2 separate regions of the Homo sapiens genome follow, and region 2 is linked to region 1. Evidence: fine-mapped expression QTL. Tissue or cell type: prefrontal cortex. Region 1 holds a variant in brackets; the other region holds the start of a gene. All regions are shown on one strand. Distances are from middle to middle.

Region 1 (2,906 bases):
CAAGGCCAAAAATTCTACCCCATGCCGAGCCACTTTCAAAGGAGAACCAATATGCTAGGACTAGAGGGGGATTTGAATAGCAGCTAATTGTCAGTTTGTCTAGTGAATAAAGCTTCCTCTCTCCCCTGAGCAAGCTGGTTATTTGTTAAAGTTTGCTGGGGTTTTGGAGCACCTCACTGTTAGGGGCAGTTCAAACTCAGCAGTTTTAATTATTAATCAGGTCAAAGGCTGATGACAATTTTTCCTCTCTTCAGGGGAGGGTCTTGAGAGTTCACAGGAGGGGATGTCCAAGCCCTGTCCTGTGACGGGGTGGAAAGGAAGGAGAGAGGGAAACAATTCAAGTCAGACCAGTCCCGAGTTCCTAATGGTTCCTTTGCCCTAGACAGACCGTATTGGAAAGTCGCTTAATCTGCCTCTGGGTTCATTTTAAGCGAATATAGGTCTTCATCCTTTCCAGGGGGTTGTAGCTTTCTGAGTTGATAAAAATTCCAGACTTGATAGAACATGTTAAAATGTTGTACCCTTGCAAATTGGAGTGCAGAAAAGGTGGTATGCTCTTCAAATGTGTCTACTCTGAGGTATCACCTTCCTCGGGGTGAGAATGGGGAGGGGTGCCTTCTGCTTGAGCACATGTAGAAAAGGCGTGAGGCTTTTTCCAGTTTGAGTTTGTAACATTTTCAAATACAGCCCTTCCTCCCACACTTCTTTCCTGATCCCTGTGGGTCTCCTTTCTCCTTTTGGCCTGAGACCCCAACTTGACAAGATCCAGAAAGGTCTCTTTTACATCTGCCTATTTGTTAGCCATTCTAAACTATTCCAGCAGCCTCTGCCTCCCACCCTCGTTGCTAGGCAGATTCCCTGGTTGCTAGGCCACCACTGCTCCTTCCCTGCCTCAAAAAGAGGTACGAATTTCCGGTGACCCACTCAACCATCCACCCACCCACTCACACACTGACAAAACAAATAGGTCCTAAACACCTACTAGATGTGAAACTCTGAGCCCAGCGTAGAACAGTTCCAAATGGAAAGAGAGATGGCAAATCCAGGGGTATCTGATATAGAGGTGACCAGTTGTGGGGGTGATGAGCATGCTGTCTCCTGGGAGTTTTCTCCGGGAACAGCCATAGACTGGGATAATTTTCTCTGACCCTCAGCCTTTTGGGTGCAGAAAACTCATTTTCTGCCCAACCAGAAACAGATCCTTGTCCTAGTGGCAAAAGCATATTGATCAGGCTTGAGAGACTAATGCCTAAAACCAGAAAGTGAATTTATTAATTTATGATGTGAATGAAGTCTGTCACATGGATCCAAGATAATCTACTTTTCTAGAAATGATGGTGTCACCGAAGGATATTGGAGAGCTGGTATAGAGCACCAGTTTGCATAGGAAAGGGAGTATATCTGTATATCTATATTAATTTTAACATTCTTACTATATGTCAGGCAAAATGCTAGATGGTTTACAGATGCAATTTTATTAGTTCCTCCTATCAACCATGAGAGGGAGCTACAAAACACTCCTTCCAATGTCACAGAAAAAGCAGTTCCAGTTAAACGACTTAACTCAGGTCTTCCAGCTAATAGATGACAGGACCAGAATTTGAACCCCAAAGCCCATGGTTGGACCAATGGATTCCAGCTACCTGGCAA[T/C]AGTAGGCTGACACGTTAGCTTGGGGGCAAGTTGGGTAATGGATGCTAAGGCGCTGATGAATGAGCCTGATGGAAATTTCCAATAAATGATGGAACATGTGGAAGTGGAACTCTGTTGAACCTACATCTAGAGATGGGAATTGGAGGCATCATCTAGCATTTAGCTCACTTCTTCTGGAGGTGCTCTGAGAGAACAGTTTCTCAATTCTTGGTGATAGTTGATACGTATTTGTGCTTGTTAGCTCCAGTGTAGCAGTGGAATATAGGAAGGTCATGTGGGCTGGCATCTAAATGGTGGGGAACAGGGGACCTAAGAGGGATTGCTAGGGCTGGGAGCTCAGAAGGAAAGGCTTCTGGAGTAATAGCTTCACCACCATCCTGCCAGACAGACATCAACCCAAGAGTCCCAGCACCTAAAGCTACCAAGAGACCAAGATCTTAGCTTTTTTTGTTGTTGTTTTTTAAAGAGACAAGGTCTCACTCTGTCACCCAGGCTAGAGTACAGTGGTGTTCACTATGACTTCAAACTTCTGGGCTCAAGCTATCCTCCTGCCTCAGCCTCCCAAGTAACTAGGACTGTAGGTGGGTACCACCACGCCCAGCTAGCTTTCTAAAAAATTTTCTTTGTAGACATAGGCTCTCACTATGTTGTCCAGGTTGGTCTTGAACCCCTGGCCTCAAACAATTCTCCCACCTTAGCCTTCCAAAGTGCTGGGATTACAAGTGTGAATCACCATGCCTGGCCAATTTTAGCTTTAAGGAAAGGTAGAAGCAGCCTTGGGGAGAAGGTCGCATGTTTGTGGGTGGAGCAGAGTCACTGAGCTCTCTGGAAGGGGCACCCCGGAACCGGCATAAGAAGGTCGGCAGAGGAGTGCATTCCTCGTTCAGGGGCCAGGTCAGGAGCCCCAACTAGGGGGCAGAGCAGACATAGCACAGCCTAGATTTGGGAGCCAGATTCAGACAGGAGCCTGGGTGGCATTGTTCTGAAAGCCGAGAACTCAATGAGACATGGCAATGGTGTTAACCGCTGTGGAGACAAGAGCGACTCCATCGCGGATGCTAACCCGCCATGTTAACTTATGAGTAGCCCCAGTCCTGAGTGCCTCCTGATTCCTACCTTGTTTGTCTCTAGTGTAAGAACAAAGCAACCCTGATGTTATCGCACAAATTATAGGCTATGACGCATGTAGCATTCTTGCCTCTTCCGGAGGGTTGCCTTGCATTGTCCTGCTGGAGTGTGTGCACCCTTTCTCTAT
Region 2 (2,906 bases), 98 kb before region 1:
AACTGTTCCAGGTAAGGGAGTAAGGCAGGGGGTAAGCAGGTCGTTCCTCGGGGTAGAGTAAGGGTAGGCAGCCCCGTGGACTGGTTCAAGGCCAGGCTGTCAAGCTCACGACTCGTCAGTACCACCTCAGCATCTCGACGACTAATCAGTGGTAATCCAAACAGATTGTGGTAGGCGCTGGGTCGGGGAATAGTGGTTTCCTCGTAGCTCACTCCATCCCCCTGGCATTTAGCCTCTAGGAGCTTCAGGCCTCGTAATCCTGAGCCCCCAGGGGAGAACCAAGGGAAGACAAGACTGCGAGCAGGTCGCAGATATCGCACACTGAAACGCTTGAGTGTGTCATCTGTAACCTTGGTAAGGCCAAACATTGTATCAGCCAGCTGAACCTCCTCCTGATCAGGCAGCTCCCAGAGAGGTATTGCTCGGTTCCAGATCCTCCGGACCTCCTCGCTGTCCTCAAATTCTGGTGCCTTGCTAAGCAGAAACCCCTCCCTGGCCCCATCCCCTCGCCCCTCCACGCTGGCCTGGAAGTCTTCCCAGCTCCCTTCTGCTAGGCTGGTCATGCAGAGAAAGTGGCCTGTGGTCTTGTCAATGAAGAGGCTGAAGGAAGTGGTAACACCAGTCTGGCCTTTGAGCTGTGAAGACTCTGCAAAGGGGCTCAGTGCCCGCAGGCAACTGTGACCATCCTGGAAGGGGATCCCATGCCCCCGCAAATACTGGCGGATTTCAGTTGCAGTTACAGGCAACACTGGCATATCCAAGGCTTGGAGAGTCTCCTTCCTGTAACGTCTGCGAGGAGGGCCTGGGGCCAAGTTTCGGGGCAGGCCCCTCCGACCCATCCACTCCCCACGCAGGGGTAACAAGATACGGAGGGGGTACCCACTTCGGAGGAGGACCCACATTCCTAGCCAAATGTGGGAAGTCACTACTTGAAATGCCTTAGGTGCCTGGTTAGCGTGCCTTCACTAGACCAAACTCTAGGGATATCCCACGCAGCACTCTGCAGAGCTCACTCTAGGTGCATTCTTTCTCTCCATGAATTTCTCCTCTTCAGCCCCTCTACGTTGCTGCTTCACACATATGCCCATCTACACGACCCTTTCGCGTCCACGTCCTTCTACAATGGCTCCCCCACCTCTATGGTCCGTTAGTTAGTTTCTCTCCGCCACCTCACCTCTATGACCCTCTATACAGTTCCTCACTGACACAGTTTCTTTGCATCATCTTCTCACCTCTACTGCTCCTCCACAGCATCTCCTCGTCGTCCTCATTTCTATAGTCATCTGCATCCTTTTTGTAGTCCCTTTGCCCTAGGCCCCGACTAGAGACCCTCTTCCGCTTCTCCTTCCCCTCACTGGGACCTCAACACGGCGAGAGCACCCAGCACGACTCCCGCCAATCCCCCGGCCCAAAGGAATGCCAGTCTCTATCCTCCCCCGTGTCTTCACTCCGCTCTACTACTCCGAGCTCCGCCGCGCCGGCCCCCAGCCCCAGGTTACCACTTTTCTCTCTCCCACTTCGCCGGCAACGTGAGTCTCCCGCACATGCTACTCGCCTTGACCTCGGAAGCAAAACTCCGGGAGCGGTCGTCCCGGAACCGGAAGCCTCGAGGTTTAGTCCCGCCCCCCTCTCCTCGCTGCTTAGGCTCCGCGGCCTCCAAGCTGTAGCTATGACGGCGCGCGGGACTCCGAGCCGCTTCTTGGCCAGCGTTCTCCACAACGGACTGGGTCGCTATGTGCAGCAGCTGCAGCGTCTGAGCTTCAGCGTCAGCCGCGACGGCGCCTCGTCTCGCGGCGCCAGGTGAGCCAAGGGAAGTGCGCAGGCGCGGGTCGGGGTGGGTGTGGAGGTGGCAACGACTCCCCGGGTAGGTCGCCCCCAGTCAGGGGTCATACTGCTCACTGTCCCGGGTCGCTTAGGGAGTTCGTGGAGCGGGAGGTGATCGACTTCGCCCGACGGAATCCAGGGGTCGTAATATATGTAAACTCGCGTCCGTGCTGCGTGCCCAGAGTAGTGGCCGAATACCGTGAGTGGGGCCGGGCTCGGGCTGGAGGGCGGGATCAGGGGCTCGACCCGCTATCCTCCTTCTCGCTTGGTCGCACCGGCCAGCTTCCACCCACTCTCACCCCTCTTCTGCCAGTTAACGGGGCTGTGCGCGAGGAGAGCATCCACTGCAAGTCGGTCGAGGAGATCTCGACGCTGGTGCAGAAGCTGGCCGACCAGTCGGGCTTGGACGTGATCCGCATCCGCAAGCCCTTCCACACCGACAACCCTAGCATCCAGGGCCAGTGGCACCCCTTCACCAACAAGCCGACCACGTTCCGCGGGCTACGCCCCCGAGAGGTTCAGGATCCTGCCCCAGCCCAGGTGCAAGCACAGTGAAGAGTTGCCCCACCAACTGCAGCCCCAGGCTTTGGACTGTTACTCCGGTAAAGGTGGTTCTTCCCCTTTGGGATTCCAAGCCCAGGCAAATGGAACCCATCAATGGGCAAGTTGACAGAGGTTCTGCTTGGGATAATGAAGAGCTGCCTGTTTCTTTCCAGTGCCTGCTTCTGGGGGCAGTGACCTTGTGAACCACTCATTTTTATGCAAGTGGCATCCCTAAAACCTGAGATGAGGAAGACTTCAAGGGTTTTACAGGGCCCTTGTTTTTTAAATCCAAATTGATAATAATGATCTCAAAACACAGTGAGAGGTCTGAAGGCTGGCTTCTGAAGAATCCCTGATGTCTTATTGGAACAACCACTGAGCTACGGAGAGCTCTGCTGTGATGGGCTAGGCACTTTATATCTGTGTGAATACAGATTTATAAAACAGGTTAATAAACTTATCCAAGGTCACATTTCAGGTCTGTCTTCAAAATGTGTGCATATGTTAAGCACAAGCCTCAGTTTTCATTATTTTAAAAC

Alleles and levels. Alleles are on the strand shown, and positions count from the first base shown. SD is a standard deviation of normalised expression in the study named.
With allele C in place of T in region 1, the expression in prefrontal cortex of the gene that starts at base 1,616 in region 2 is higher (small effect, 0.29 SD a copy in GTEx).

The links. PIP is the estimated chance that this variant, and not a neighbour inherited with it, causes the effect. A credible set is the group of variants that fine-mapping cannot tell apart.
Region 2: it holds the start of MRPL43, and the variant in region 1 is the best candidate, but not a certain one, in a credible set for the expression of MRPL43 in prefrontal cortex (GTEx, PIP 0.68).

The regions. Positions count from the first base shown.
Region 1 is chr10:100,887,753-100,890,658 of GRCh38, reverse strand. No RefSeq gene overlaps it. Among named protein-coding and RNA genes, the nearest start is that of SLF2, 24 kb to the left of the region's middle. RefSeq lists an enhancer at 1-671. The variant T/C (reference allele first, on the strand shown) is at 1,651.
Region 2 is chr10:100,986,207-100,989,112 of GRCh38, reverse strand. It overlaps MRPL43 (mitochondrial ribosomal protein L43), which reads left to right and starts at 1,616. Exons shown (of 3, transcript NM_032112.3): 1 at 1,616-1,800; 2 at 1,917-2,023; 3 at 2,138-2,844. The coding sequence starts at 1,670. The coding sequence ends at 2,379. It overlaps TWNK (twinkle mtDNA helicase), which reads right to left and starts at 1,570. Exons shown (of 5, transcript NM_021830.5): 1 at 1-1,570. The coding sequence starts at 902. RefSeq lists an enhancer at 1,788-1,857.